Regions from separate parts of the Homo sapiens genome. Here regions 2, 3, 4, 5 and 6 are each linked to region 1. Evidence: fine-mapped expression QTL. A gene starts in region 1. Each other region holds a variant in brackets. All regions are shown on one strand. Distances are from middle to middle. Region 1 holds the start of PLEKHA5 (pleckstrin homology domain containing A5). Region 2 overlaps PLEKHA5 (pleckstrin homology domain containing A5). Region 3 overlaps LOC107984527 (a long non-coding RNA gene). Region 4 overlaps AEBP2 (AE binding protein 2). Region 5 has its middle 47 kb from the start of PLEKHA5. Region 6 overlaps PLEKHA5 (pleckstrin homology domain containing A5).

Evidence for each region.
Region 2: its variant is fine-mapped to the expression of PLEKHA5 in whole blood (TOPMed, PIP above 0.99).
Region 3: its variant is fine-mapped to the expression of PLEKHA5 in blood mononuclear cells (TOPMed, PIP above 0.99).
Region 4: its variant is fine-mapped to the expression of PLEKHA5 in whole blood (TOPMed, PIP 0.97).
Region 5: its variant is fine-mapped to the expression of PLEKHA5 in whole blood (TOPMed, PIP above 0.99).
Region 6: its variant is fine-mapped to the expression of PLEKHA5 in whole blood (INTERVAL, PIP above 0.99).

The regions. Positions count from the first base shown.
Region 1 is chr12:19,127,152-19,132,373 of GRCh38, forward strand. PLEKHA5 (pleckstrin homology domain containing A5) reads left to right here and starts at 2,582. Exons shown (of 32, transcript NM_001256470.2): 1 at 2,582-2,737; 2 at 2,900-2,979. The coding sequence starts at 2,649.
Region 2 is chr12:19,149,803-19,155,024 of GRCh38, forward strand. The region is part of intron 3 of PLEKHA5 (pleckstrin homology domain containing A5); the gene reads left to right. Among named protein-coding and RNA genes, the nearest start is that of PLEKHA5, 23 kb to the left of the region's middle. The variant T/C (reference allele first, on the strand shown) is at 2,652.
Region 3 is chr12:19,063,854-19,069,075 of GRCh38, forward strand. It overlaps LOC107984527 (a long non-coding RNA gene), which reads left to right. Exons shown (of 2, transcript XR_001749033.1): 2 at 4,731-5,085. Among named protein-coding and RNA genes, the nearest start is that of PLEKHA5, 63 kb to the right of the region's middle. The variant C/A (reference allele first, on the strand shown) is at 3,007.
Region 4 is chr12:19,474,585-19,479,806 of GRCh38, forward strand. All of the region lies in intron 3 of AEBP2 (AE binding protein 2), which reads left to right. Among named protein-coding and RNA genes, the nearest start is that of AEBP2, 38 kb to the left of the region's middle. The variant T/C (reference allele first, on the strand shown) is at 2,861.
Region 5 is chr12:19,080,388-19,085,609 of GRCh38, forward strand. No RefSeq gene overlaps it. Among named protein-coding and RNA genes, the nearest start is that of PLEKHA5, 47 kb to the right of the region's middle. The variant GT/G (reference allele first, on the strand shown) is at 2,769.
Region 6 is chr12:19,175,936-19,181,157 of GRCh38, forward strand. The region is part of intron 3 of PLEKHA5 (pleckstrin homology domain containing A5); the gene reads left to right. It also overlaps the pseudogene RN7SL459P. Among named protein-coding and RNA genes, the nearest start is that of PLEKHA5, 49 kb to the left of the region's middle. The variant T/C (reference allele first, on the strand shown) is at 2,748.

The DNA.
Region 1 (5,222 bases):
CACAAATGTCCTTGATGGCATCTAGAATTATGAATTTTTTCAATTTACTTTTTCCAGATCCATCCAAGGACCCCCTATCTCTGGCAGCTATAGCCTTATGAAATGTACTTTCTACATAATAAGACTTGAAAGTCACAATGACTCCTTGATCCATGAACTGTGGAATGCATGTTGGGTTAGCCAACATGAAAACAACACTAATCTCTTGTATGTCTCCAGGAGAACTCTTGGGTAAACAGGTACACTGTCAATGAACAGAAATATTTTGAAAGGAATCACTTTTTCTTTTCTTTTTTTTTTTTTTTTTTTGAGCAGTAGGTCTCAACAGCAGACTTAAAATGTTCAGTCAGCCATGACAGATGTGCTGTCATCTAGGCTTTGTTGTTCCATTTATAGAGCACAGGAAGAGTATATTTAGCATAATTTTTAAGGGTCTTAGAATTTTTGGAATGGTCAATGAGAATTGGCTTCAACCTAAAATCACCAGCTGCATTATCTCCTAACAAAAAAGTCAGCCTGCCCTTTGAAGCTTTGAAGCCAGGCATTGACTTTTCCTCTCTAGCAGTGAAAGTCCTAGATGGCATCTTCTTTCAATAGTAGGCTGTTTTGTCTACATTGAAAATATGTTTAGTGTATCCACCTTCAATGATCTTGACTAGATTTTCTGGATAACTTGCTGCAGCTTCTACATCATTTGCTGCTTCATCTTGCACTATTATGTTACGGAGATGGTGTTTTTCCTTAAATCCCTGATAGCTTCAACCTTTTCTTCTGCAGCTTCCTCAGCTCTCTCAACCTTCATAAGATTGAAGAGAGTTAGAGCCTTGCTCTGGATTAGGCTTTGGCTAAAGGGAATGTTGTAGCTAGGTTGATCTTCTCCCCAGACCACTAAAATTTTCTCCCTATCTGCAATGAGGCTGTTTTGTTTTCTTATAATTCATGTTTTCACCAGAGTAGCATTTTCAATTTCCTTCAAGAACATTTCCTTTGCATTCCCAACTTGTCTAATTATTTGACACAAGGCCGAGCTTTTGGCCTCTCTTGGCTGTTGATACATCTGAGCTTAATCGTTTCTAGCTTTTCATTTAAAGTAAGGGACATGCAACTCTTCCTTTCACTTGGTCACTTAAAGGGCATTGTAGGGTTACTGGTTGGCCTAATTTCAATATTAGGCCATTATTATTAGACAATTATTAGTGTTTCATTTCAGGGAATATGGAGGCCCAAGATGAAGCAGAGAGACAGAGGAACAGCTGGTTGGTGGAGCAGTCAGAACACACACATTTATTAAGTCCCTGTCTTACATGGGCTCAGTTCATGGTGCCCTCAAAACAATTTCAACAGTAACATCAAAGATCACTGATTACAGATCACTATAACAGGTACAATAATGAAAAAGTTTGAAAGATTGCAAGAATTACCAAAATGTGCCACAGAGACATGTAGTGAGCAAATGCTGTTGAAAAACGGTGCTAGGACTTGCTTAATGCAGAGTTGCCACAAACCTTCAATTTGTAAGATGTGAAAGATCTGCAAACAGCAATAAAGTGAATCGCAGTAAAACAAAGTGGGCTTGTACAGCAAGGAGGTTATACAAATATACTTTTGAAATCCTACAGCCAGTTTGAATCCAGGCTTTGGCAGTTATTACTATGACTGGGCAAACTACTGTGTTTTTAAACTTCATTTTTCCTATCTGTAAAATGGGGATTTTTTATAGATTGTGTGTGTGTGTGTATATATACACACACACACACACATATATATATATACACACATATATATATAGTTGTTGTGAAGATTTAAAAATGTACACCGTCACAAGGACTCCATAAAATAAGCTATTATTGTAATCTATTGGAGACAGGGCAAGTAAAAATCCACACTGATGTTAAGTGAATCTTTAAAAACAAGTACCAGAAAAAGACGAGTTTTTATTTTATAAGATATGACCTAAGGGGCCTAGGAAGAGAAAAAACTTGTTTTGTCAAGTCTAAATCCACTCATATTTCATGGGGCCACGTATCACGTCCAACCTTTGATATCTGGCACACAACAAACAAACAGGAAAGGCCTTTCGTGTGCTTTAATAAAAACAGCTTTCCATTTTAAAACGATAAATATATTGGAAAAATCTGTTGGCTCTCCAACAGCTCTTATAAAACAAAGCTCAGACGCTGTGTTTTTGTTGTTTGAAAGAGAGAAATCAGGGGCTTGGGCATTATTAGGCTCCCTTTGATCGCGCCCTGGGATGGGAAGCCTTCGGGCAAAGCCCTGGGGGCAGGACGCGTTTTTTTTTTTTTTTTTTTTTTTTTTTAATCGATCCCGGAACCTTCGCGCGGCGGAGGGGGCGGGCGCGCCGCAGGGGCCCGAGGGAGGGGTCTGGGGCGCGGCGCCGCTTGCCCATCCCCCGAGCGCGCGGCGGGGCGGCCGGCCGGCGGCCGCCGGGATGCGGAGGGGCGGCGACGGGGGCCGGACCCTGCCGGGGCGGCGGGGCGGGCACCGCCCGAGGGGGTAGGGCGCGCGCGGGGGCGCGCCGGGCCGGGGAGGCGCGCTCGCTCCGCGCTCCCTTCGCTCGCTCGTTCCCTCCTCCCTCGGCAGCCGCGGCGGCAGCAGGAGAAGGCGGCGGCGGCGGCTAGGGATCAGACATGGCGGCGGATCTGAACCTGGAGTGGATCTCCCTGCCCCGGTCCTGGACTTACGGGATCACCAGGGGCGGCCGAGTCTTCTTCATCAAGTAAAGAGCCGGGGACGGCACGGGGGCCCGCGGGGGCGGGAGGGCAGGAGGCGGGCGGCTGGCGACACGGGGGAGAGCCCGGGTCTGTGCTCCTGCAGCCCCTCGGCTCGCCCCCGCGTCCCCTCTCACGCTCCGTGTCTGCCCCTTCTCTCACCCCTGCAGCGAGGAGGCCAAGAGCACCACCTGGCTGCACCCCGTCACCGGCGAGGCGGTGGTCACCGGACACCGGCGGCAGAGCACAGGTAACGCCGGGCCCAAACGGAGTTGGGCTCCGCCTGGAGGAGGCGGCAGAGCCCGGGCCGCCCGGCTCCCCGCAACCTGCCCCGCGCCGCGGGCCCCGGGAGGCGGCGAGGCGGGGCGGAGGCCGGGCGGGAGCGGCCGCAGGTAGAGGGGCCACGGGGACTCCGCCGCCGGGAGTTCTCTCCAGTCTCGGGGCGCCTCTTTCTCCTCAGCCTTTCATCAGCACTTGGAGACGGCGCCCTCTTCCTGCGCCTTCTCCCCCCATCCCAGCCTAGACGACCCTCGCGACCCTAGAGTGGCGACGCTCCCCTCCCTGAAACCTGGAGTCCTGAGTTTTTCCTCCGCGGCCGCTACTCACTCCCCGGTGACCCCCAGCTGCCGTCTTGCCCCCCAGCAATCTTCAGGCAGTCCTTACCCACTCCCCTCCCTGCAGCCCCGGACCCCGATCGCCCGCCGGGATAACGTAACCACATCCTCCCCCTCCTCCCAGGAGCGCTGCCTCCTGCCGTGCAGCTTCCTCCTCCTAGGTGGGACTTGTGGGTAGGTGGCTGATGAAGGAGGAGGAGGAGGAGGAGAGGAGTTCGGGGGTGCTGCGATCCTCTCTGTGACAGGGAACGGCTCGGGAAACGCTTGGCGCGTTCCCTCCTGCCACGGGAGGAGCAGCCGGAGCCGGAGGAGGCGTTCGCAGCCTCAGTTGCTGGCGATCCGGATCTAAAGTCCCCGCCAGCCGCACGGAGGTTGCACAGACTGCCAGGAGGCGGTGGGCGTGCGAGGGGGTGTCCCGTATGGGGGCACCCGGGCCCTGTTTGGAGGGAGTCCGTGGGGAAGCGGCTCTCTCGGGTGGCTTTGGGAGCTTGTTTGAATGCTAAGTGTGAGTGGAGCTGGAAAAGGCTCCTCGTAGTTTCTGTACTGGTCTGGGTTTCTTTTATCATTCTTTGTTTACATTCGTGACTTGTTTGTCTTTGAAATGTAACATGTGTTCTCTTACTGGCCTGCCTCTAGTCCTGGTGATTGGAAAGGCTTGAGAGCAGTTTGGGTCGAAGGCGAGGCCAGTTTCAGCAGTCCTCAGAGCTGGCCTCTGGGGTACATTCTCTCGGACTCTGACATTCCGTGAATCTGTTAAAGTTGCCAGGATATTGAACAAACCTGCCTCTCTGTGAAATGCTGGAGTTCACTGAAGTGACTAATGTCTCCAAATTTGCAAAAAGGTGGAGGAAGAAAGGAAAGGCTGGTGTAGCAAGCATGATGAGCTTACATTTTTAAGGCATTTCTGACTAATACACTATCATGTTTCTCAATTCCCCGGTGCAGGCTTTTGCTTCAATATACCTTTCTGGTGTTTTACACGCATATTCCAACTTTGATGGCCTCTTTGCTTTTATGGATAATGATAGATTTATTTCATGAAAGACGATATGACATTTAAATTATTTAGACTAATTATCCTATGGAATTATGAGTGATATAAATAAGTGTCCTAGTTAACCCCACAGATTTGGTAACATTCACGCCACAGAAAAATTTTATTCTTTTATGTGATTTCACTTTTTTTTTTTTCTGGTTTGGTTTTACTTTGCTTGGACTCTGGTTTTGTACACACATCGGTTGTTTTTACTTCCAAGAGGCATTTTGATGAAATCCAAACAACTTGTCATTAATAATAATATGTAGCACATAATGACCATTGTTCACCTGAATCATCCCCAACTTTACTACTTGAAACTTCACGTCTCTTAGTCAAATTTTTAGAAACACACACGGAAGTATTCGGTGTCATTTCTTTTCCATTAATTAAGTAGTTAGGAAGTTCTGCCTTCTTTTTGGTGACACTTCCTAGATGGATTCATTTGTGTAGCTGAAAAATACGGTCTTAAATAGACACAATATACCCAAGAAGAGGCAGGCGTTGCCTGTTATACCCAGCTTTTTTTTTTGCTAGTCATTCATGAGTGTTCCACCTGGGATGAGAAGGCTTCCCTTTGCTTTCTTGGGTGCCAGAACATAGTTCCTCTCCACCCTAATATATTACAGTGTGTGCTCAGGTCAGATAATCTCTAATATTATGGTTACTTTTCTGGTGGCTCTAAATTTGAATTGCTGTTTTTCAAAAAATGATATCTGTTGTATTGCCAGCTCAACACTTTTTTTGTTAGTAATCTACTTAATTAAAACAGCTAATAAATGAAAATGGATAATTAAAATGGATTGAGACTTATTTTGCTATCATTGAAGTAATACTAATTGT
Region 2 (5,222 bases), 23 kb after region 1:
CGAGTGAGCAGAAGCACCTAAGGGTCTCTTGAGGCCTAGATTCAGAACTGGGACAGTGTCACTTTTACTGCTTTCTGTTGGCTAAAGGCAGTCACAAGGTCAGTTCAGATTCAAAAAGTGGAGAAATGGACTCCATCTTTGGATAGGAGGAGTTGCAGACTAACATTGTACAAGGTTGTAGATACAAGGAGAGGTGGAAGATGGAGGCATTTTTGTAATCCATGTAAGGTACATGCTGAAAAAATTACTGAACCCAGCTAAAGTTTAGGTTCTTCAGTCTGAAATATGGGATTACACTTGATCCTGAACACACTGCTGATCATATATGTACTCCTTAGATTATATAGAAATCTATGTGGACATGTGTGGGATGACCCTCTTTATTAAAACTGTTAATTCCTAACTCCTGTAGAATAGAGTTATTATGTTTTTTTCTTTTGATGCCCTGTTTAGTTGGTTTGGTACTTTCACTGGGGCTGTGTCAGTTTAAGGTCCAAAATAGATCTGACTGATTCTGTTTTGGGGGATGGAGGAAGGTATCTTAGGTCTCAGTGTGCTTCTGAGAAGTCTTTCAAGTAGATGACCTCCCCTGTTCTGCCCACACCCAAAACCCACTGACCAAGCACTTGCTGTCATGTTACCCTGTTTTGTTTTCCCTGTGGCACTTATCACTGGTTAAAATTCTTATTCACTTACGTGTTTTCTTTTTCTGCCTTGTGATATGAGCCTCACAAGAGTGGGGACCTCCTCTGACCCTCTTTGCTGCTAAATTCTCACAGTTAAGAATAGTGCCTTTCTGTTCTTAGGAAATGCTCAATAAATATCTGTTGAACATTTGTAATAAATATTTTGTAATAAACAAGTCAGCAGTTTGTTAAAATACAGTGTGTTTAAATGCTATGTCACTGGTGCATTGCAGACACTTGTTGGGTATTTATGGAATCTTGAGGGAGGGCCGTGGTCAGTAGGAGCTCAAGGAGAATGAAAGCTTGAAGCCACAAAGGGTTTTTCTAGATTAATCCAGTGAAAGACAGATGAGCAGGAGAGTTAGGGTATGATAGATTTGTTGAAATGTTGAACTGTTAGACTTCAGGCTGGGAAGGAGGGAAGTAGAGCAAAAAGTGATCTGATAGATTGGGATAGAGATTCTTCCAAGACCAGAGAACTCCCACAGGGAAGTAGTTAAACATGTATACTGCAAGGTTGGAGATTTGGTGTTGCAGTGTGATCATTGAAGTCATGATTTTAGATGTGCCAGGTTATGGGTATGACAAGGTTCTGGGATTAAGAGAATGGATGGCTCAGGTAGTTGAAGGACCTTGGGGGAATGGGGAATAAATATCTGTTCTTTGAGAGAATGCAGTAGGACAGCTGATGGGAGAAAGTCCTTAACAGCCAAGGTACTGAGGTAATGCTTTGAAAAGAGGTTGAGGGTATAGAGGAGTTTGCTAATTATGGAGCACCATTTCCATAGGTAGTTAAATTTGTAAGATAGAAGGTGGACTGTAGACTAGGTCAGGGATGGAAAAAACAAAGCCTTGTAGGGTTAATGCCAGGTCAGTAGATGGATTGAGAGAGGAATTGGAGATAAAGTTAATTTGGGCATTGAGAGGTTTGCTGAATTTAGTTTCAGTAGACTCCTAGAGAAAGGTGACCCTGGGACTTACAGAGGCCGTGACTCATTTGGCCAAGAGTGGTGGTCAGCCCAGGAATTTGTGGGTTCTGCCTGTGCTCCTTAAAGGGTATTTGGGTAGGTAGATTGTGAACTCTTAATAGCTTACATACTAAGCAGATACATAGTCATTAGCAGCTTCCATATTTTCACTATGGTTTTTCAGAATATTTTAAGTATTTTTTTATTAGAAATGACATTTTCCAAATGTAAACTCTTTAGAGATGGAAAACATTAATGATATATGCAAATACTAAAGGACAGTGATTTAATTTAAGTAATACTGTTGTCAAGTGTAAAATTCAAAGATCTAAGCCTGGAACCTGGACTTAAAAAAAAAATTCAAGGATCAAGATTTTCAGGTTAGCATTTTCTATTTTTTGGTCATACTTTTTTTTTTTTTTTTTTTTGAGACAGGGTCTTGCACTGTCACCCAGGCTGGAGTGTAGTGACACGATCTCGGCTCACTGCAAGCTCCACCTCCAGAGTTCATGCCATTCTCCTGCCTCAGCCTCCCGAGTAGCTGGGACTACAGGCGCCTGCCACCACGCCCGGCTAATTTTTTGTACTTTTAGTAGAGACAGGGTTTCAGCATGTTAGCCAGGATGGTCTCGATCTCCTGACGTCGTGATCCACCCTCCTTGGCCTCCCAAAGTGCTGGGATTACAGGCGTGAGCCACCGCGCCCGGCCACATTTTTTTTACATTGGTATTAGCAGTAGATATTTTAATGTAAATATTTAATCTTTTTTGCTGTTAGTCATTTTGAAAGTTCAAACTGTGTGATGAACCAGACCAAAACTTCATAATCTTTAAACCACAAAGTTGCCTAATAGGCAACAAAGTAAGCAGGACAACAGTGGAAGATTTTACAAATTCTCAGAAACACCTGGAAATAATTTAGGAAAAGCTTTTGACTCTAGGCTCATAGATAGAGACTGTACATGAAGAATAATTAATAGCAATTACTTTCTTGTCTT[T/C]AGTCTTTCGTCAGATTTGTTTCTTTGAAAAGAGCAAGGCAGGTTAAAATAATCTGTATAATATAAATTGCCCATGCAATGCAGGTCAGTTTGTTTTATGCAGGTAGCAGTAGTACGAACTTGGGGTCCAATGATATTTTTTATATACTACTTATATATGATGGTAATAATTAAAATCTTTGAGTATGTTTTATTTCTTTAATTATGACAATTTAATTAAATGCCAAATGAATATAACATTTGTCAGACATAAGGGAAAATAAGATGAATAAGCACTGCACATGATACTCAGCTTAAAATAAGAACATTTTTTTTATGTCAAAGAGCTTCTCTAGGATCTGTAAATAGGAGTGTAATTGAAGTTGTAAAGTACATGCATTTGATTTTGGGAATTTCTTTATTATAATCTTTTATCCATAATATGTGTGGCAAATTTACTCTCCTACATTGTAGCTTACCTTCACATTCCAAGAGATCTTTTGACGAACAGAGTTCTTAATTTTAATAAAATTATGTCAGTCTTCTGTAAATTAACACAGGTTTTTTGTTTTTTTTTTTGTTGTTTTTAATTCCTTTCCAGTACTTTAATCTTTTTCCATTCCAGTCCTTACATTTCTTTATATTGCTGGCTAGTATTGCCAGTACAGTGATAGAAGCAACTACAGCTCTGATGTAAAAATGAAGGATTCTAATTTTTACCACTAAGAATGATATCTGATGAAGATTTTTGGAAGGTATCATTTCCAGGTGAAGGAAATTCTCTATTTCTACTTTAGTAAGAACTTTTATTATGAGTTTAAGTATTGAATTTTATCAACTATTTGTTCTGCATTCATTAAGATTTTTTTTCTTTTAGTTTGCTTATTCAGTGAATTCCATGAATTGCATTAATACTCTTGTTAATGCTAAACCATTAATGGTAAATCTTACATTGTTGGGATCAACCCAACTTGGTCATGAAGTACTCTTTTTTCCAAGTTAATAAAGTTTGTATTTTTTAGAGCACTTTTAGGTTCATGGCAAAATTTAGTAGAAAATGTATAAAGTTCTCTGTTACGCGTACACACACACAAACCTTTACCCCCTCCCCCACTGTGGACATCTTGCACCACAGTGATACAGTTGTTACAATTGTACCTACATTGTCACATCATTATCACCCAAAGTTCATAGTTTACCTTAGGATTCACTCTTGGTGTTGTGTGTTCATTGAGTTTTGACAAATGTAAATGACATGTATCCACCATCACAGTATCATACAGAATAGTTTCACCCCCCTAAAATCATCTGTACATTGTTCTGTTGGGTTTGTTGATACTTCATTTAAGACTTTGATATTTATGATAACAAAGTGAAATTGCCCTGTAATTTTCTTCTCTTGTACTGTCATTGTCTGGCTTTGATAGCAAGGTTGGTCTAGCCTCAGAAAATGAGTTGGAAGGTGTTCCACTTTTTTGTACTCTGGAAGAGTTTGTATGAGGTTAGAATCAGTCATGGAGAAAGGGATATTATAGTTTTCAAATGTTGCAGTGACTTCTTGTTTTCTCTGTGTACTCTGTCCTTTTATTTTGAGTTTATATTATCAGATGCATTTAAGTATAGAATTGTTATGTTCTGTTAAGTGTAGAATATGCCATCAGAATGAAGCCAACATTTTTATCATGAGGGGACCTCCACCTCCGGTAGTACTTGTGCCTTTATCTGTTTTGTCTGATTTTGATATATAAACTTTCTTTTATTTAGCATTACCTACTCTAATTTTTTTTCACCCTTTTAAAATATCTGTTTATCCGTATATTTGGGTGTATCTTTTTAAAATAGTATATAATGAATCTTTTTCCAGTTTTATAAACTTTTTTTTAACTTATAGTCAACTTATGATTGTTGGTATATTTAGGTTTATTTATACCTTATTTTGTTCTTTCTTCTCTTCCTTGTTTTCTTGTTGGTTATTTAAAAGGTATATAGTTTTAAAATTGTGTACAACCAAGATACTCAGCAATGGATAATCAATTTTCCTCTCAATCTTTGACTTTCAAGAAACTGGAATAGATTTCAGTATGTACTACAAATTGAGTGAGAAATTATTCGGGAAAATGCCCAATAAAAGGCCTTCATAATTTTGGAAGAAGTAATTGGAATAAAGGTGACTCATCTCTTATTAGTGAGAATGGTTAAATATGCTAATTAAATGCCTTTCACTTTTTGTGTTTACTTGTTTGTATTCATTGATGGAAGCAGAATGTTTGGTGTGTCTTTTAGATTTAAAAACTGGAATCTACTAGTAACATATTTATATTGGCCTTTTTGTGATTTAAAATATAATGTTATCTTTTATAACGGCATCAGACCACACTGAGTGCCTTCTAATTACAGTCTGTGAGTCTTGTGAGTACAGAGAAATGACAAGCTTTGCCCTGAAGGATTTCATATGCCCCAGCAATGTCTAATGATGTTAAGTTAAAGCCAGATAAGATTGAGAAACCTTTCTGTATGTGTCAGTATTAGGTCAAACCTCTGGATTTACACTGGTGGGGCTCAGGCATCAGAAAGAAAATGAGGAAAGGGGTG
Region 3 (5,222 bases), 63 kb before region 1:
GCTCTCTTGACCTCGTGATTTGCCTGCCTCAGCCTCCCAAAGTGGATCTTGTTCTTTTTATGGCTGCATAGTATTCCATGGTGTATATGTACCACATTTTTCTTTATCCAATCTGTCGTTGATGGGCATTTAGGTTGAGTCCATGTCTTTCCTATTGTGAATAGCGCTGCAATGAAGATTTTATTTCTTGATCTGGGTGGTGGTTACATGCCTTATGATAAATTATTAGGCCATACGTTTTTGGTTTTTTGGTTTTGTTTTTTTTTTTTTTTCAGACGGAGTCTCACTCTGTCGCCCATGCTGGAGTGCAGTGGCATGATCTCAGCTCACTGCAACCTCTGCCTCCCGGGTTCAAGTGATTCTCCTGCCTCAGCCTTCCAAGTAGCTAGGATTACAGGCACCTGCCACCACGCCCGGCTAATTTTTGTATTTTTAGTAGAGGCGGGGTTTCACCGTGTTGGCCAGGCTGGTCTCAAACTCCTGACCTCAAATGATCCACCCACCTCGGCCTCCCAAAAAGTGCTGGGATTATAGGCATGAGCCACTGCACTTGGCCTGTATATGTTTTAATTGCAAAATTTAAAAGCTTTTTTAAAAACCTTCAACATGAACCTGTTGGTGGTATCCAGTGATACTGCTACTTGCGGCAAATGGCCTGTTAAATTCAGTCCTGGCCTTTGCATTGTGCTTTCAGTAACCATATATGAAAGCCCAACACAGCAATTCTTACTGAAGCTATCATCTCACTATTTAAATGAAAGACTTTAGAATTTTTCTTTTTATGCAAAATGAATTGTAAGGATTTTCAGAAGAGAAAGAACAGCAAACATCTCAAACCACATGTAGTTTTAATTAAAACTCTCCTAGTAGAAAAAAAAAACGTTATCATCAGCTGCTGTATGTACCCTCTAGGACCTCCATAGGAGTGCTCTGCTTTCCTTAGGAGAACTGTCAATATGCACACACACTTGAAACAGATGAGAGACTTAGCAGCAAAGATCCTCATCCTGTGTGGTAGCCCATCACAGGAAGGGGCAATGGAGCCCAGTGAGTTCTCTCTTCACCATGGAGCTGCCTGCCACCCAAGACAGGCATTTAACGTGTTGGCTCTGGCAACCCTCACTTCCCTTGTCATTCCAATTAAGCTATTAAAATCAATGCAGAAGTCTTAGCTACTTGGGAGGCTGAGGAGGAAGAAGCATTTAGCCCAGGAGTTCAAGACCATCCTGGGCAACTTAGAGAGGCCCTGTCTCTACAAAAAGAAAAAAAAAAGGGGTTTTTTTTTAATTAGCCAGGAGTGATGATAAATTATTAGGCCACTACAGGCCTGTAGTCTGAGCTACTGGAGAGGCTGAGGCAGGAGGATCACTTGAGCCCAGGAGTTTGCTGCAGTAAGCTTTGATAGTGCCACTGCACTCCAGTCTGGGTGACAGGGTAAGATGCAGTCATTAAATAAATAAATAAGTAGAAGTACTTAAAGCTAAAGTGTTACAGTAGATGTTCTTAAAGGGGTCAGAAATTTGTACCCTGACTTCTTAGCAAGATGCTTTTCCACTTTGTTAACCTCAAAAAGAAAAAAGTCTAAAGGTCACACCTATATTCCGTGGCTTCATTGATTTCTTCAGTTTCTTTTCCACTAGGTGAATGTTTACCCTCTCGATATTTTTTTAAAATTTCTATTTGATATGAGAGAGTAAAAGTTTACACTTTAAAATCCTCTCCACTCACCTTCACCCTCCCCCAACCAAACCTCAGCTTTTCCTGGACCAAAATCTCAACTAGTGTCCACAGACATGGATACATACCTAGAGCAAAATAAATCAAATGGGAATTTTAATGCACTCAATACAGTTGAGCTAAAAGTCACTTATTTTATGAAGAAAAGATAACAACCTTTCTTATGCTAGAGCACACTCGCTTCTTGAACAAAGTTCAGTGGTTAAAGCTGGTGGGGAAACGACCTATTTCGGATGACAGATAAATAAATTCCAGGTTAAATACTAGAGAAATATCTTAATGAAGATTTTTTCAGACTAGAGCAACCTCCTGAGGGAAACAGTTTGAAGTGACATCATTTGAGACATTTAAATTATAGTGGATAAAGTACTCAAACCCACCACAAAGAAACACTCTTTGTAGAACTCATGGGAAAATTACTGGGATTTATAATAGGCCTTTTCTATGAGGAGGTAAGCCTGCCTACGAGGCAGACCTGCTATTGAATAAATGTTATTTTAAATGGAGTGTGGCTGTATTGTAACTCAGTTCCTCCTTCTATGGAGAAGAGCATGAATGGGTAGGTTAGCCAAAAAATTAATAGGTTTTTTCTTTTTAAAGCAGTAGATTTCTTCACAAAGCCTACCTAATTATGTGAGTTTTTCCTCAAGAATGACATGCTTCAATGCTCATTTTCTTTCAACTATTTTTTTAAATGTTATCTACCCCAGGACTTCCAACCCCCTTTCTCTAACAAATCAGCATGTAGCAGAGAAGTTCTGAACTAACACAGCTTTGAATGTCAAATGTTTAAATTTGAATGTTCTGCCTTTTCGATAAAATGAATTTAACAGTGACCCTCCAAGGATTTTCCACTTCCAGTCTTACCCAGAACAGCCCTCATTAAGCATGTAGCACTCCACAAAGAGTAAATCATTTATTTGGAATCAGCCCTTATGAGCTAGAAAAACTACCTTTCAGAAAGCCTTCATTTCAAAGGACAATTGCCATATTCTGTAAGCCTATTGATTTTTCTTCACTGTTGGAATGAAGAATGTAAACAGAATTGCATATTTACTCATTGCCTTTTCTGATACCTTTGCTCTGAGAGCTCAACACTTCTGTCCCACGTGTATGAAAGGCTGCTCTTTCCAGAGCTGGTCCGTGTGAGATGATTAATGAATGGCCAGACAAAATTCTGATTAATGCTCCACTATTAAGATTTGCCTTTACTTCAAGAGCTTTTTATAAGTTCATAGTTTTGACCCCACAAACCTTTCTCCCCTCCCC[C/A]CCCCGCTTGGTAATTGCTAAAGTTTGACAGCCACTGTGTTTGCTGCCTGTAACATATGGCTAATTGAATCAGAGTTGGGGAAAGAACCAGTAGATTCCTAATTATGATCCACTCCACAGATCTGAAGCCTGAATAAGCAGGAAACAAGGAAAAGGCTGCAGAGCCTAGAAAACCTATTATAGCGGTGATTGTAGCAGGATGCAAACATTTCTAAAACTGACTGAATATCATTTATTTAGAAAGCGTAGTTTGCTTTCTGTCTTTTAATTACACAAAGCAAAGAAAGATTAGAGAGAGATTTGCTTTTATCTGTGTGATTTTTGCACGTCTGGACACTGGACACCTCATATTCTCATAATCATATTTTAGTAGACATTTGCATTTCTAATAAGGCAAACACGCTGGATTTTCATCTTATAGGTTCTTCTCCATCCTCAACACTCCAGTTATGAAGACACATGTATATATTTTTAAATGCGTGTTTCAATTTCAAATGAATTTTTCTACAGCAGTTAATGGTAACATATGTCCTCTGAATTGCTTCCCCCGGGGTGAAGAGTAAGGCAATAAATGAAATATTCATCGAATATTGCTGCTGAACATTTAACTAACAATGCAAGGCACATTACTAGGTGTCAGAAGGGTAGGCACACGATAAAACACAGCTTTTCCATTTGTTTTCAGTGCTTGGGGAAGTAAGCAAGATGAACAGTAGCAGTATAATGTGAGATAGGTCATGGTCTATACATAAGGAATATGTTATTTGATTAATGCCTTCCATTAGACTATAAATGAAACCTAGCACAGTGACACAAAATAGGTTTCAATAAATATTAATTATGAATGAATAAAGGAAGGAGGGAATATAATATACAGTTGTATTGGACTTTTGAGAGAAATCACTTCTGATTATGGGATTCTAGAGAGACTTTCTTAAGAAAGATTTTGGTTTCAGTCTTAAACTAATGGATAAACTTATAGTAGGTATGACGTGGGTCACTCTACTGAGATGACTCAAGCATAGGCAAAAAAGTAAGATACAGGATATATTTGGGTGGCACAATTAATCTAGTTTGTTTAAGAAAGTCATCTATAATACTTGACATTTTTTCAGCATGTTATAAATTTTATAAAGATACGTGAAAAAGAGTAGTGGGAGACAGACCTAGAAAGGTAAATTGGGAACAGATCTTGGATAACCTTGATTACAGGTTAATGATCATGACAACCATCAATGTCTGTGGGTTAATTCAACTTGTAACCATTTATTCGTAACAGGAAATGTTCTCTTCTCTGAAGTCTTTCAAGAACTCATATACTGAAATTAACATATTATAGTAGTAAAGATAAAGTAATGGCTGTCCCTGGAATCCGTTCTCAGGATCAACTTGGAAGGTAGTAGAGCTGGATAATTCCACTGAGAATTGACATCCATATTAGAAACTTCAGTCCCTCTCCCTTTTTCCTTTTGGCAGCTTGCCAGCTGTAACTAAAAATAACTCAGAACTTTAATTTAAGAGATAATATCTATGGTGTCTTTGTTAACAATCATATTTTTATTGTAAGAACTTAGAAGAAGGAATAAAATATCTCATTGAAAGGCTAGGTAGTGACAAGAATGTAGTTTCTTTGGAATTTGTGGCAAAGACTATCAATTGTTTACACCAACAGCTGTTCTTCTCTAATAGTATATTAACATTATAAAATCCATTATTTTTGACAGCAAATATAGATACCTGGAGAATTCCAAGAATACAGTCTAAGTTTCTAACTTTCCTTGCTAGTGTAATTATGTGAATAATTTCTGGCCAATAAGACAAGCAAAAGAATTGTGTGCAACTTCTGGGAAGAGAAGAGATGTGACTTCCTTCATCTTGTTCTTCACCTTGCTGTCTGGAATATGAACTTGATGGCTGGAACTTGAGCAGCCTTCTTGGATCAGAAGGCGGCCTGGGAATAGGAATAGAGCTGAAGAGAAGCCGCTGCATTCTTGAAAATTATAAAGATGCCATGCCATTTCAGCTTGCTTTCCTGTGGACTTCATTTATATGTATGAAATAAAAGTTTATATTGTTTAAGCTCCTGTGGGTTTTCTGTCACTTGCAACTAAATACAAACTTATATAATTTGAAATGTTAAGAAATTAAAGAATTTTTAGGAATAATAGCAATATATAAAGCATCTTACAGTAAATTAGATTGTTGCTAAGGAAATG
Region 4 (5,222 bases), 350 kb after region 1:
ATTCTCCTTTCTTTCTTACACAAAGTCTAGTAAATTAAATACTGTCTGTGCCTTGCTTTAAAAAGAAACAAACTTAATTTTAGAGCAGCTTTAAATACACAGATTACTTGTTTTTCTATATACTTGTTTTTCTATATACCAAGTTTCTTCCATTCTTGAAATACTATATTGTATATGGGTACCTTGCTTTTTTGTTTTAATTTGAATAGTTTTTTTTTCCCCCCTCAAGATGGAGTCTTGCTCTGTTGCCCGGGCTGGGGTACAGTGGCATGATCTTGGCTCACTGCAACCTCCGCCTCTTGGGTTCCAGCGATTCTCCTGCCTCAGCCTCCCGAGTAGCTGGGATTACCGGCATGCGCCATCACGCCTGGCGAATTTTTATACTCTTAGTAGAGATGGGGTTTCACCATGTTGGCCAGGCTGGTCTTGGACTCTTGACCTCGTGATCTGCCCACCTTGGCCTCCCAAAGTGCTGGGATTAACCACACCTGGCCCTAATTTGAATAGTTTTTGGGGAACAGGTGGTTTTTGGTTACATTGGATAAATTCCTTAGTGGTGATTTCTGAGATTTTGGTGCACCTGTCACCTGAGCTGTGTACACTGTACACTGTACCCACTGTGTAGTCTTTTATACCTAACCACCCCCACCCTTCCCTCCTAGTCCCCAAAGTCTATTATATCATTCTTATGCCTGCTCATAGCTTAGCTCCTAATTATAAGTGAGAACAAAACGATATTTGATTTTCCTTTCCTGAATTACTTCACTTAGAATAATGGTCTCCAACTCCATCCAGGTTTCTGTGAAAGCCATATTTTGTTCCTTCTTATGGCTTGAGTAGTATTCCATGGTATGTATGTATGTATGTGTGTATGTGTGTGTATATATATATATACTGCATTTTCTTTATCCACTTATTGATTGAAGGGCACACTTGTGTGTGCAAGTGTCTTTTTCATATAATGACTTTTCCCAGTAGTCATTCATATAATGACTTTTTCCCAGTGTCATTCATATAGTGACAATCCCAGTAGTGGGATTGCAGGATCAAATGGTAGTTCTACTTTTAGTTCTTTAAGAAATCTCTGTACGGTTTTCTATAGTGGTTGTATTATATTCTCACCAGCAGTGTAAAAGTGTTCCCTTTTCACCACATCCATGCCAACATCTGTTGTTTTTTGCCTTTTAAATTATGGCCATTATTGTAGGAATAAGGTGGTATTGTGTTGTATATCTTCTTTTGAGAAATGCTTATTCATGTAATTTGCCCACTTTTCGATGGGATTATTATTATTTTTTTCTTGTTGATTTCTTTGAGTGCCTTGTCAATTTTGAACATTAGTCCTTTGTTGGATGCATAGTTTGCAAATATTTTCTCCCATTCTGTGGGTTGTCTGTTTATTCTGCTGATTATTTCTTTTATGTGCAGAAGCTGATAATCTGCTGATTATTTCTTTTTATGTGCAGAAGCTTTTTAGTTTAATTAGGTTTCATCTGTTTGTTGTTGTTCTTATTGCATTTGCTTTAGGGTTCTTGGTCATAAACTCTTTGCCTAAGCCAATGTCTGGAAGAGTTTTTCCAATGTTATCTTCCAGAATTTTTATGGTTTAAGGTCTTAGATTTAAGTCTTTGCTCCATCTTGAGTTGATTTTTGTATAAGGTGAGAAATGAGGATCCAGTTTCATTCTTCTACATGTGGCTTGGCAGTTATCCCAGCAGCATTTGTTGCAAAGGGTGTCCTTTCCCCACTTTATGGTTTTTAGTTTTTATTTTTTTGAGACTGAGTCTCGCTCTGTCACCCAGGCTGGACTGCAGTGGTGTGATCTTGACTTACTGCAACCTCTGCCTCCCGAGTTCAAGCAATTCTCCCGCCTCAGACTCCCGAGTAGCTGGGATTACAGGTGGCTGCCACTATGTCTGGCTAATTTTTAAATTTTTAGTAGAGACAGAGCTTCACCCTGTTGGTCAGGCTGGTCTCGAACTCCTGACCTCAAGTGATCCGCCCGCCTTAGCCTCCCAAAATGCTGGGATTACAGGCGTGAGTCACCAATATTTGGCTTTATTTCTGGGATCTCTATTACATTGGTCTATGTGTCTGTTTTATTCCAGGACCATGCTGTTTTGGTAAGCATAGCCTTGCAGTATAAAAAGTCAGATAATGTGATACCTCCAGATTTGCTCTTTTTGCTTAGTCTTGCTTTGGCTATCTGGGCTCTCTTTCGGTTCCATATGAATTTTAGGATAGTGTGTTTCTAGTTCTGTGAAGATTGATGATGGTACTTTGATGGGAATTGCGTTGAATCTGTAGATTGCTTTTGGCAGTATTGTCATATTCACAATATTAATTCTACCCATCCATGAGCATGGGATGTGTTTTCATTTGTTGGTGTTGTCGATGATTTCTTTCAGCAGTGTTTTGTAGTTTTCCTTGTAGAGGTCTTTCACCTCCTTGGTTAGGTATATTCCTAAGTATTTTATTTTTTTGTAGCTTTTGTAATAGGGGTTAAGTTCTTTAGTTGTTTCTCAACTTCGTCATTGTTGGTGTAGAGCAGTGTTATTAATTTACGTTGATTTTTGTATCCTGAAAGTTTACTGAATTTATCAGATTACAAGCTTTTTGGATGAGTCTTTAGGGTTTCCTAGGTATATGATCATATCGTCAGCAAACAGCGACAGTTTTATTTCCTCTTACCTATTCGGATGTCCTTTATTTCTTTTCTCTGATTGCTCTGGCTAGGACTTCTAGTACTTATGTTGAATGGAAGTGGTGAGGGTGGACCATCCTTGTCTTCTTCCAGTTGTCACGGGGAATGCTTTCAACTTTTCCCCGTTCAGTAGAATATGGGCTGTGGGTTTGTTTA[T/C]TACGTTAAGGTATGTTACTTCTGTGCCAGTTTTGTTGAGGGTTTTAATCATAAAGGGATGCTGGATTTTTTTGTTATATGCTTTTTCTGCATCTATTGAGATCACATGATTTTCAGTTCTTTTTATGTGATACATCACATTTACTGACTTGTGTATGTTAAACCATCTCTGCATCCATGGTATGAAACCCACTTGATCATGGTGGATTATCTTTTTGATAGGCTGTTGGATTCGGTTAGCTAGTATTTTGTTGAGGATGTTTGCATCTGTTATCAGGGATATTGGTCTGTAGATTTATTTTTTTGTTATGTCCTTTCCTGATTTTGGTATTAGGGTGATACTGGCTTCATAGAATGACTTAGGGAGGATTCCCTCTTTCTCTGTCTTTTGGAATAGTTACATTAAGATTGGCACCAGTTTTTCTTTGAATGTCTGATAGAGTTCAGCTGTGAATCCAACTGGTCCCAGAAGGGTCGTGTATTTCCCAGAGTTTATCCTCTCCTCTACATTTTCTACTTCGTGCATGTAAAGGTGTTCATAGTAGCCTTGAATGATCTTTTGTATTTCTGTGGTATTGGTTGTAATATCTTTTGTTTTGTTTCTAATTGGGCTTATTTAGATATCGTTCTTCTTTTCTTGGTTAGTTTCACTAATGGTCTGTCACTTTTGTCTTTTCAAAGAACCAGCTTGTTCATTTACCTTTTGTATTGTTGTTGTTCTTTTGGTTTCATTTAGCACCACTCTGGTCTTTGTTATTTCTTTTCTTCTACTGGGTTTGGGTTTTGTTTGTTCTTTCTTGTTTCTCTAGTTCCTTGAGGTATGACCTTAGATTGCCTATTTGTGACCTTTCAGACTTTTCTTTTTTTTTGAGACAGAGTCTCACTCTGTCGCCCAGGCTGGAGTGCAGTGGCATGATCTCAGCTCACTGCAACCTCTGCTTCCTGGGTTCAAGTGAGTCTCCTGTCTCAGCCTCCCAAGTAAGCTGAGATTACAGGTGTGGGCCACCACACCCAGCTAAGTTTTGTATTTTTACAGGGTTTCACCATGTTGCCCAGGCTGGTCTCAAACTCCTGACCTCAGGTGATCCACCTGCCTAGGCCTCCTAAAGTGCTGGAATTATAGACGTCAACCACCTTGCCTGGCATTTGATGTAGGCATTTAATGCTATGAACTTTTCCTCTTAGCACCGCTTTTGCTGTTGCCCACTGGTTTTGATAAGTTGTGACACTATTATTGTTCAAATAATTTTTTAATTTCCACCTTGATTTCATTGTTGACTCAAGGATCATTCAGGAGCAGATTATTTAATTTCCATGTGTTTGTGTAGTTTTGAGGGTTCCTTTTGGAGTTAATTTCCAGTTTCATTCCACTGTGGTCTGATAGGATACTTGATATAATTTAGATTTTTTAAAAAATTTATAGAGACTTGTTTTGTGACCTATCATATGGTCTATCTTGGTCTATCCATGTCCTGATGAAAATAATGTATATCCTGGCCAGGCATGGTAGGTCTCGCACTTTGGGAGGCCGAAGCAGGTGGATTGCTTTAGCTCAGGAGTTTGAGACCAGCCTGGGCAACATGGCAAAACCTTGTCTCAACAAAAAATAAAAGAATTAGTTGAACATGGTGGTGCACACTTGTAGTCCTAGCTATGCGGGAGGCTGAAGTGGGAGGATTGCCTGAGCCTGGGAGGCAGAGATTGCCATGAGCCAAGATTGTGCCACTGCACTTTAACCAGGGTGACGGGCCTCAAAAAAAAGTATATTCTGCAGTTTTTGGTAGAATGTTCTGTAAATACTTGTTAAGTTAATTTGTTACAGGGTGTAGTTTAAATCCATTATTTCTTTGTTGACTTTCGGTCTTGATGACCTGTCTAATGCTGTCAGTGGAGTATTGAAGTCCCCCACTATTATTTGGAAAACTTACTTGAGGGGAATAACTGAGGAAAACTTCCCTGGCCTTGCTAGAGATGTAGATATCCAAATACAAGAAGCTCAAAGAACAGCTGAGAAATTCATCACAAAAAGATCATCACCTAGGCACACAGTCATCAGGTTATCTGAAGTCAGGATACAATTATTATTACATAATTATGTTGCTAGGATTATTATTATTTTACTGTGTTTATTGTGTTGCTGTCTATCCTATTTCTTAGGTTTAGTAATTATTTTATAAATTTGGGAGCTCCAGTTGGGTGCATATATATTTAGGATTGTTATTTTCCTGTTGGACTAATTCTTTTATTATTATTTAATGTCACCTCTTTGTGGGTTTTTTTTTTTTTTTTTTTTTTTTTTTTTTTACTATTGTTGCTTTAAAGTCTGTTATATTTGATATAATAATAGCTATGCCTGCTTGCT
Region 5 (5,222 bases), 47 kb before region 1:
AGCCAAGATCACGCCGCTGCATTCCAGCCTGAGTGACAGAGTGAGACCCTGTCCCAAAAAAAAAAAAAAAGAGATGTACACGTGATTGCAAGACAGGCAATCCTCAAGAGTTTTCTTTCTTTCTTTCTTATTTTTCAGTGATTTAATTATTTTGCCCAAAAAAACTCTCTAGCCCTTAGAATCTAATGTTTTAAATTCTCTTTGGGGGCTATTTGCTTAGATACCTAAGAAGGCTGTCATCTCTTGATCTTCCTAAATGAAACCCTTATTTGTTCACTTCTCCTCCTACTTCTCCCCCAGCACCATCACTGCATGCCCATAGACATATTTTTCCTCTAGTTTGGTCTTGCTTGCCAACAATAGCCCCAGACACTTGACTGTGGACCCACAGGACCAACAACTGTTCATAGGCTTCTCCATGAGCTCACCTTTGTTAGCTGCATGTTTGGCTTCTAAAGGCTCATTTACTTTAGCTTGAGAGCTCTCACAAAGCAGAAGAATGGATTTTCCCTTTAACTCTTCACAATCATGTGCCTCAGACAGCCCTTTGTGACTTTCTTCCTTTCTTTTGCTTTCATATACATATGAAAAAATTGCAGTTGAACATGAGGCAGTGAAAATAAAGAATTACTTATCTAGGTTCCAGATCCTTCCAAGCACTCAACCAACGACCGCCTTCACAATAACCTTCACCATGCATGTATCAAGGCTTTCCTATATCAGAGCCTTGATTCTGTACAACTTGGCTTTGTGCCATAGTCCCTGTCCACAAGGGGTGGAACTAATGTGGAAAATGCAAAGACAGACAGATACTTTCATGCAGTATTTAGAAGATATAGAGACAAGGTATTTGGGGGAAGTGACAGGAGGATTTTATGGAGGAAGAGACCCCTGAGTTTATTTTATAGGATGCCTGGAAGTTAGCCAGGTTGCAGTTAGAGCAGAGCATAAGTAAAGGTGCAGGTGAGAAACATTATACTGTGCATAGCAGGTATCTACCAGTATAACTGCACAGGTTGCTAGAATAGTGAGATTGCTAGTAGTCATTTCTTGAGCCCTTGAGTCTTCTTTGGATGCTCTGGCTGCTCAACCCTCAAGGACTCCCATGTAGGAATTCAAGCCCCTTGTGGGCATCAAGCAGGACACAACATGTTTGGACTTGTGTTTTAGTTAGATAACTGGCCTCTCTGTGAAGGACCAATTTAAAAAGATAAAACTAGAAACAAGAGGAGGGGTTGGAATTCTTTTCAGAATTCCAGATCACAGAGGATGAAGGCCTGAATTAAGTCAGTGATGATAGACAAGAGGAGGGGACAAATTCAAGAAAAGTTTAGAAATTACGATCAGTAGCACTGGTGAGTGATGAGATTGAGAGACTGAGAAAGAGGTAGTCCAAGGTGATTCCCAAGCCCTTGGCATGGGTGACTGGAAGACTGTTAATGTCACCAACCATTTAAATCATAGATGAGGGTATGGAGTTTATTTTAGACAGGTTGAGTTTCAGGTGCCTGTGAAACCTTCAGGTAAAGACTATCAGTAGGATATAAACTCTGAAATTTGGAGAAGTCATGAGCAGGTATAATAGCAGAAATCGGTGCTGATATAACTACCCAGGAAGGGATGGGATAACGAGAGTGAGAAGACCAGTGGATTTGGTGGGGCCACCAACATTTACAGCATCAGTAGAAAGACAGAAACCCATGATGGAAATGGAGAATGGTAAAGGACTATGAGGACACTGAGAAAGAAAGAGTTTTTGTTGGGTTTTTTTTTTTTTTTTTTTTTTTTGAGACAGAGTCTCACTCTGTCACCCAGGCTGGAGTGTGCTGTGGCACAATCTCAGCTCACTGCAACCTGTGCCTCCTGAGTTCAAGTGATTCTCCTGCCTCAGCCTCCTGAGTACCTGAGACTACAGGCGCCCACCACCATGCCCGGCCAATTTTTATATTTTTAGTAGAGACAGAGTTTCGCCATTTGGCCAGGGTGGTCTTGAACTCCTGACCTTAGGTGATTTGCCTGCCTTGGCCTCCCAAAGTGCTGGGGTCACAGGCGTGAGCCACCAGGCCTGGCAGAGAGTTTCAAGTCTTCATCATCAATGTGGACCACAACAGAAGACTGAGTTAAAGACAGAAAAGCATCGTGAGTTCTGGCAGGTAAGAGGCCAGCAGCGACCTAGAAAAACACTTTCATTTTCATTGTTGTGATAGAAGCCAGACTGAAGTGGAATGAATGAAAGTAAAAGGGAATTGAAAATGTGAACCGCAAATGGAGATGATGTTTTGGAGAGGCGTGTATGAAAAGCAGTGGCATAAGAGTAGGTAGCAGCTAGAGGGTGGAAGACTTGGCTGCCCCTAGACTTTGCTGTCAGTATTTCTCATAGGTGAGATAATCCACTTTTTCACCATCTAAACCTCAAGATCTGCAATTTGACTCTGTTGGCAGCGATAGTTTCCTACTTGTCCCTAATGACTCTGCTATAGGGAGTTTTTCAAATTGCTTTCAGCACGTCCTTGAATTGCTCTACTCACTGTCTTAGTCCACTCTGTCAATTTGATTGTCATCCACCTCCTTTCATGTGCCTAACCCAAAGAGTTGACGCCTGATCATCATGGCCTAGATTGTTAAGGAGTGGTTACATTCCAGGGCCTTTCTGTGGAGATGAAGTTTTCTGATTTGTCAAGTGATGCTAATAGCATTTCTGGGTAGATATATTGATAATGGTAGTAGAAGACCTATCATTATTTTAAAGAAGATTCAAGGACCCTATA[GT/G]TTTTTTTTTTCTTAGCCTGATAAAAAGTTGTACATTTTATATTGATGCAGTGTTGTTTATGAATTACATTTTTAAAAATGTATGGGTACTTCTTCAGAGTTACAAGTGATACAAACATGAGAAGACTATTCTAAAGCATGATCCATTTAATTTAGCAGTACAAACAGAAAGAGGAAAATATTCCCTAAAATTACTTTATAGGATTTGCCTTATAAATTATTCCTTTCATTAATTCAGATACTCATTCCAACATTTATTGAGTGCCTACTGGTTGCCACAGGGTATGCACAGTATTACATGGAAGCAAAGAGGAATCAGTTACATGATTTTGCCTGGGAATGTCATCGAAGGCATTGGAGATAGTAGTGCTTGATCTGAGAGTAGAAGGGTGAATGGCAGCTTTCCAGGTGGACCACTTGGTGAAGGACATTTTTTAAAGAGGGAAAACTTTTGTTCAGGATGAATCACAATGGGTAAACCAAAAAGGGAGGAAGCAGAGAGAGAAGTCAGAAAGCTATTGCAGTCACCAGTTCAGGTGAGATATGATGACCTTACTTTTTAATAATTCCTGTCAGGAGATGGACAGAGTTTTCCTTTTCTTTTTTTCTTTTTCTTTTTTTTTTTTTTTTTTTTTTGAGATGGAATTTCACTCTTGTTGCCAGGCTGGAGTGCAATGGCGCAATCTTGGCTCACCGCAACCTCTGCCTCCCAGGTTCAAGCGATTCTCCTGCCTCAGCCTCCCCAGTAGCTGGGAAGCTGGGATTACAGGTGTGCGCCACCATGCCTAGCTAGTTTTGTATTTTTAGTATAGATGGGATTTCTCCATGTTGGTCAGGCTGGTCTCGCACTCCCGACCTCAGGTGATCCACCCACCTTGGCCTCCCAAAGTGCTGGGATTACAGGCATGAGCCACCGCACCCGGCTAAGAGCTGGACAGATTTTAAAAGTGTAGTATCGGACCTCAAAAAAGCTTGCAGCCCAGGAAAGTCTGTAAATACTTCTGTAAGAGGCCAGGTAAAAGAAAAAAAAATGGGAACAGATAGGTATGGTGAGAGAAACAACTTCTCCTTTAATGCATGATGCTATTGGTTATATTGTGTTCCCCTAAAATTCATCCACTGAAGTCCTAACTCTCAGTACTCTAGCATGTAACCTTATTTAGTAATAGGGTATTTGAATGTGTAATTAATTAATATGAGATCATACTGGAATAGAATATGCCCCTAATCCAATATGATGAGTGTTCTTATAAAAAGCGGAAACTTGGGGTCACATAAACACAGTGAGAAGGCCACGTGAAGAAGAAGGCAGAGATCAGGGTGATGCTTCTACAAGATAAAGAACACTAAAAATTACCAGAAGAAAAACAGAAGATAGAGGAAAGGCATGAAATAGATTCTTTCTCACGGTCCTCAGCTAGTCCTCAACACCCTATTGACAACTTGATCTTGGCTGTGAGGTTCCAGAACTGGGAGACAATAAAATTCTTTTGTCTAAGCCACCTCATTTGTAGTACTTCATTATGGCAGCCCTAGAAATCGAATACATATGCCTTCACAACTGCTCCATAAATGGCCTTGTTTTGTCAAGTCAGCCCAATTCCATCAAGCGTGTAGGAGTGCAACTAGAGTTCATGAAGAGACCTCTAGCCAGAACATATGACCAAGTACCCTACAGTTTAAGAAAGAAGCACAACCATGTCAAAGCTAAATCATTTCTGTCTTAGAGTTAACAGGTGTAAAACCAATAGAAACTCGGTGTTCTAACATTTATTTCAAAATCTATTCTTCTTTTCCCTAGAACCATTCACAAAGTCTTCCATTTGTAATGACTCACTTGGCTCCCTTCCACTACTCTTCTTATTTTGAGCCATTTATTTTTCATCTGTAGATTCAGCCCCACCCCTAATCCAAAATTAAAGATATCCCTAGTCAGAGATTATTTAATAAGCTCTGTGCCAGTGGGTTTATCATCTAATCTGCTTGGACAATGAGCAAGCATTGTTCTAGAAAATAAGCATTGTTCTTTATGACCACATCCCCAGGTTTGGGGCCTGTCTTCAAAGACTAGGTCACATCGGGCCTCCTTACCATTAAGTCTCAATTACTGAGGCTGTTCCATGACTTTCCTGGTGACTCATTCTGTAGCTCACACCTCCCTGACCATCTGTGCCAACTTGGTGTATCTGCCCGGCCTCTGGGTCCTTGCCTTCTCTGCTCTGACATGGCTAGCCACTAACTAGACTCTGGTTCTGACCTACTTCTCTTTCTTCTAAGCAGTGAAGACTTTATTTTCCAGTTTTAAAAATACATTTGGCATAGCTGTCAGTATAAGTTTGGTTATGCTATGATAACAAACAGCCCCAAAACTCAGCACTTAAAACAATCAAGATTTCCCCCTTGCTTCTACTGTATGCCAGTTAAGAGTCTGCTGTGGTGATCTGGTCTCCTCA
Region 6 (5,222 bases), 49 kb after region 1:
ACCTCAGTATTCATTCAGGAAGATAGGTTTGCCTAAGAAATACGTATTAAAAGCCAGAAGGTAATCCCTTTTGAATTCTGTAATTCTGTTTCTGGGTCTAGATGTTAAAAAAAATTAAATAACCTTCAAAATAGTGAGAAGTGAATATAACACAAATGTCTAACAATTGACTTATTTTATTAAACCATGAGATAACAAGATACAATGTTGTATAGCTTTGGAGGGAGTTCTCCAGACACTCTCTCTCTCTCTCTCTGTCCCCCCCCCACCTTCCTCCCTCCCTCTGTCTTCCTCCCTCCCTCTGTCTCTATTATTTAAAATAAATAAAGTAGATAAGTAATTTTTTTTTTTTTTAAGATGGAGCCTTATTATATGCCGAGGCTGGAGTGTAGTGCTGTTCGCGGGCACAATCCCTCTAGTGATCAGATCAGCACAGGAGTTTTGACCTGCTCTGTTTCCAGTCTGGGCCAGTTCACCACTCCTTAAGCAATCTGGTGGTCTCCCGCTCCCAGGAGTTCAGCATATTGATGCTGAACTTAGTACGGACACGCTATCAGCATAGCATGCTGCAGCCCGGAACTTTTGGACTCAAGCAGTCCTCCAGCTTCAGCTTCCTAAGTAGCTGGGACTATAGGCGTGAGCCACCATGCCTGCCTTTCTCTTCATTAACAGAGATTAGCAAGTGTTGTAAAGGTATTAAGTCTTGTACCAAACTGAAGTGTTTTCCTTGATAGAAGCTTAGGTATAGGAAAGAAAACTGAAGAGGAAATCACCTTCTTATTTTGAGACATAAGGCATTTTTTTTAACTTTCTGTATTTACTTAAATTGACAAATAATATATATATCATATGCTACATAATGTTTTGAAATATGTATACACTGTGGAATGGCCAGATCAATCTCATTAGCATATGCATTACCTCACATATTTATCTTTTTTTCTTTTGAGACAGAGTCTCACTCTGTCGCCAGGCTGGAGTGGAGTGGCACGATCTTGGCTCACTGGAACCTCTGACTCCCTGGTTCAAGCGAGTCTCTCTCCCGCCTCGGCCTCCTGAGTAGCTGGGATTACAGGCACGCACCACCACACCCAGCTAATTTTTGTATTTTTAGTGGAGACAGGGTTTCACCATGTTGGCCAGGATGGTCTTGATCTCCTGACCTCGTGATCTACCCATCTTGGCCTCCCAAAGTACTGGAATTACAGGTGTGAGCCACCACGCAGGGCCCACATATTTATCTTTTGTTTTTGTGGTAAGAACACCTAAAATGTCTCTTATCAGTTTCCAAGAATACGATACATTGTTATTTATGTAGCTTTTAAAAATATTGAACATAGAGATGTGATAATTAATGATGTGTTAAAAATACAGTACAAAATAGTACTAGTGATTACAATTATTCTTTTTGAGTGCATATGACTACCAGACACGTGGTAGAAACCAGATTTCATGTATTATCTGTAATCCTCATAACAGAACATATAAGGAAGATGATATTTCATTTGATAGATAGGGAAACTAAGGATGAGGGAGGCTAAGCAGTTGTTATGCAGACGAGTTTCATTTTGAAAGGGTCAAAGCCTTTGGATCAGTTCCCACTGCAACACATCTAATACACCCACAGTGCCGTGTTGTCCTTCGGGAAGAAGTTTTGTGCTCTTCTTTTGGTAATGTTGCTCAAATGATCATAATAATTTTAAAGCACACCAAGAGTTGACCTGGAGCCTGTTTGAACTATGGCATGCCCAAGTAGTGGTTTCCTTTATGCCCCATTTCCAGTTTATAGTTGAGGATAATCAGGCCTGTGCTATGTATTTATTTACTTCAATAAGTTATAATTTATAGGTGCATTTTTAATTCTACGGATCAGTAAGAGGTGATTTCCCTACTCAAAAATACTTGATTTGGCTTTCTAGTGGTAGGAATATTTTCTGCCATGATTACTTTTCTGTGATGTAGCCAGTGCTGATGATCAGCTTCTGTGTGACTAATTGGATAGCTCTGTGAGTTCACTGTGGAAATGTAAACTCTAGCTTTGAAATTGAGCATACTGTTCCTTATGGCAGTTAAGGCTGTGATGTTAGTGTCATCATCTTCATACTCCTGCACACAACTTCCACGGCTCCTGGTGTGCTGTGATTAGGTTTCTGGAACCATTGAGCACTCACCCCCACCCACGTTTCAGAAATCTCCTTGGTCTATTATTCCAGTGTGCTGCCCAAGTATTGTCATTTCCTTTGTGTGCTGTGACGTGAAAAAAACTGAGGATGCATTCACTGGTAGCAAGCCACATATTTATAAATGAGTACAACACAGAAATTGGTTTGATTTTTCTCTTGTACATTATATTTTGTTCAGAATTCATTATTCCCTAGGTAAATGCAGGAGACATCGCTGAAACATCAAACTGATCCCATCATTAAAGACAGTAGCATATTCAGGGATTATGCCAGCATAATTTTGTAGAAAATAAAAGAAGTCACAAGTTAGAGAGACAGGTGCAGCATTGCAGCTACACGAAGTGGAGCGTGCAGTTTTCCAAGTAGGTAGTTAATTTTATCCTTAGTTTTCATGATTGAAGTAATAACATTGATAAAATGAAATAAGTTAAAATATGACAGTGTTGGGAAAATGTAGAATGATAATACTCCGTAGCTTTTGAGAACCTGCTTACCTCTTTCTAGTGAGAGATCCAGGATTTTTCTGGTTGATAGAGATCTGTCCTGGGCAGAAAATGGCAAAAC[T/C]GAGATTCGGCTCATGACTTCATTGCTTTTATTGTGTCCTTAGTCTGCCTTACTGGGCGTTAGTTTCCTTAATCTCTACAGAGGAGTTGTGGGCTAATATGCAGTGATGTCTGTGGATTGATTTCTTTAAAACAACAACAAAAATAAAAAACAAACAACTCTCAAAACACAAAGTAGTAGAAGTAGAAATATTTATAGTGGCTGGTGGAGTGCTGTTGGATATATCAGTCTAATTTGTTGAAACCTAGAAATCATGTATGTCCTAGTTGGTTTATTCTACTTGGGATTAGAAACCAAGTGCTTAGGGTAAAGGAGGAGAGATTCTGCATTTGTTTTATTTTCATTGCAGATGCACATTACCTCTTTCAGAAATTCCTGAGTCATACATGATTACATTATGTTTTTATGCGAGACATTTAATTCCTTTGCACTGGGAAATAAGTTTTTCAGTTGCAGTTTTTTAAAATGTGAAATTGGCTGCTTTATATAACAATTGTTTAATGCTCTTTTTATTATTCCATTTTTGATCCCATAGGTTGTTGTTAGGGCCTCTGTTTAACAGTATGTATTATTTATATTGAAACAGAAGAAACAGTTGTGTCACACTGTGATCTCAGTTTTATGAATTTATGCATAAGGCTAAGGACTGGAGGGGAACCTGAAAAAACAATTGAACAAAAGAATGAAGTGTTGGCCGGGCGTGGTGGCTCACACCTGTAATCCCAGCACTTTGGGAGGCTGAGGCAGGCAGATCACCTGAGGTCAGGAGTTTGAGACCAGCCTTACCAACATGGAGCGAAAGCCCGTCTTTACTAACAAATAACAAAATTAGCCTGGCGTGGTGGCACATACCTGTAATCTCAGCTACTCGGGAGGCTGAGGCAGGAGAATCGCTTGAACCCGGGAGGCAGAGGCTGCGGTGAGCCAAGACTGCACCGTTGGACTCCAGCCTGGGCAACAGGAGATAAACTCCGTCTCAAAAAAGAAAAAACTAAAACAGTGAAGTGTTAGTTAAATATAAATGTTTAGAGCGTAAATTTTTCCCTGGTATATGGGGGAGAGGTGGGTTTATTGCAGTAATTACAGGTGAGTTAATTAAGTAGCTGAAAGTTAGCCTCTCATTTGTAAAGACACACAATAATAACCTTTTTTAGCTAAAAATTAGAGACACTGAAAAAAAATTAGAAAAATATTTTTTAAAGAGAAAGGGTCTCGCTATATTTCCCAGGCCGGACTTCAACTCCTAGACTCAAGATATCCTCCTGTCTCAGCTTCCTGAGTATCTAGGACTACAGGCATGTGCCATGCACCACCACGCCTGGCTAACAGGATAAATTTATATGAAAAGACTTGTAAACAAAAGTCTTTCAGGCTGCTCTCAAAACACACACATGATTAATGATACTTAGTTTTTGTACCTTGTATCAAGGTGCAGTATGCTGGTGATTATTTTTTAGAGCACGGAAATGCCAGCGGTAGTAAGCAAATCTCAAACTGTCAGCTTAGAGGTTTATTGTGCGTGTCTGCTCTTTGAGTCTATAAAGGGATTAACAGCTGAATATAGACTTTAAATCACTGTTGGGATTTAAATTTTTACTCTGAAAGACTAGGTCATTTGACAGTAATCAAGGGTATTTTCATTCTCAAGACTGTTTTGCAGGCCCAGCAGAAAACCCCTCTATTTAACCCATGAGGGGAGTCATCCTCAGGGCTGAGGCATATGAAATCTGGGGTACTTCACACAGAAAAATAATAAAAATGTAGGGGGATTTGCCTTGTGGTTGAATCCAGGAAGTTCTAAATTGGCAATAAGCAGATAGGGAACAATTTTGTCAGATACTGTGGATTAATGGTATTTAAAAGGCACCTTGTTATTATTTTTGATGCACAAATAATTTTACATCTGCAAGCATATTTTAGAAATTCACCAATATGATGACTAATTATTTGGCCAAAAAAATTGACAGTGATTGTTGCAATTATATTTCTAAAGACCCATGCAATACAATGGTGATTTAAAATATGTTGGTCATATGAGTTTTTAAAACTGAATTGTTTGTTATAGAAGTAATATAAATATTTAAAAAATATATATCTTTGAAAAATATAGTGTTTTTTTTTTTTTAAACTGTATTCCAAAGCCGATTCCTGAGACTGTGCTTTATATGCACCTACGGCTCCTAAAAAACATCAGCCACAGCTTCAAGCCTAAGCTCACCCGAGACCCAAGTCAGACACCTCTGGTGTGGAGCCTGGGGATCTGTTTTTAAAGAACTCCACAGTGCACAGTCAGCATTCAGAACCACCATTCTAAAGTTTTATATGTTTCACATGGATAGGCAGATAGTTGAAATTGTAAAAAAAAAAAAAAATCAATTTTGATTCTCTAATATAATGGAAAATATCAGATTAAAAAGAACTCTATAGTAATATTTCACTATTTACTTGAGATGACCTGAACTAGGTATAACGAAA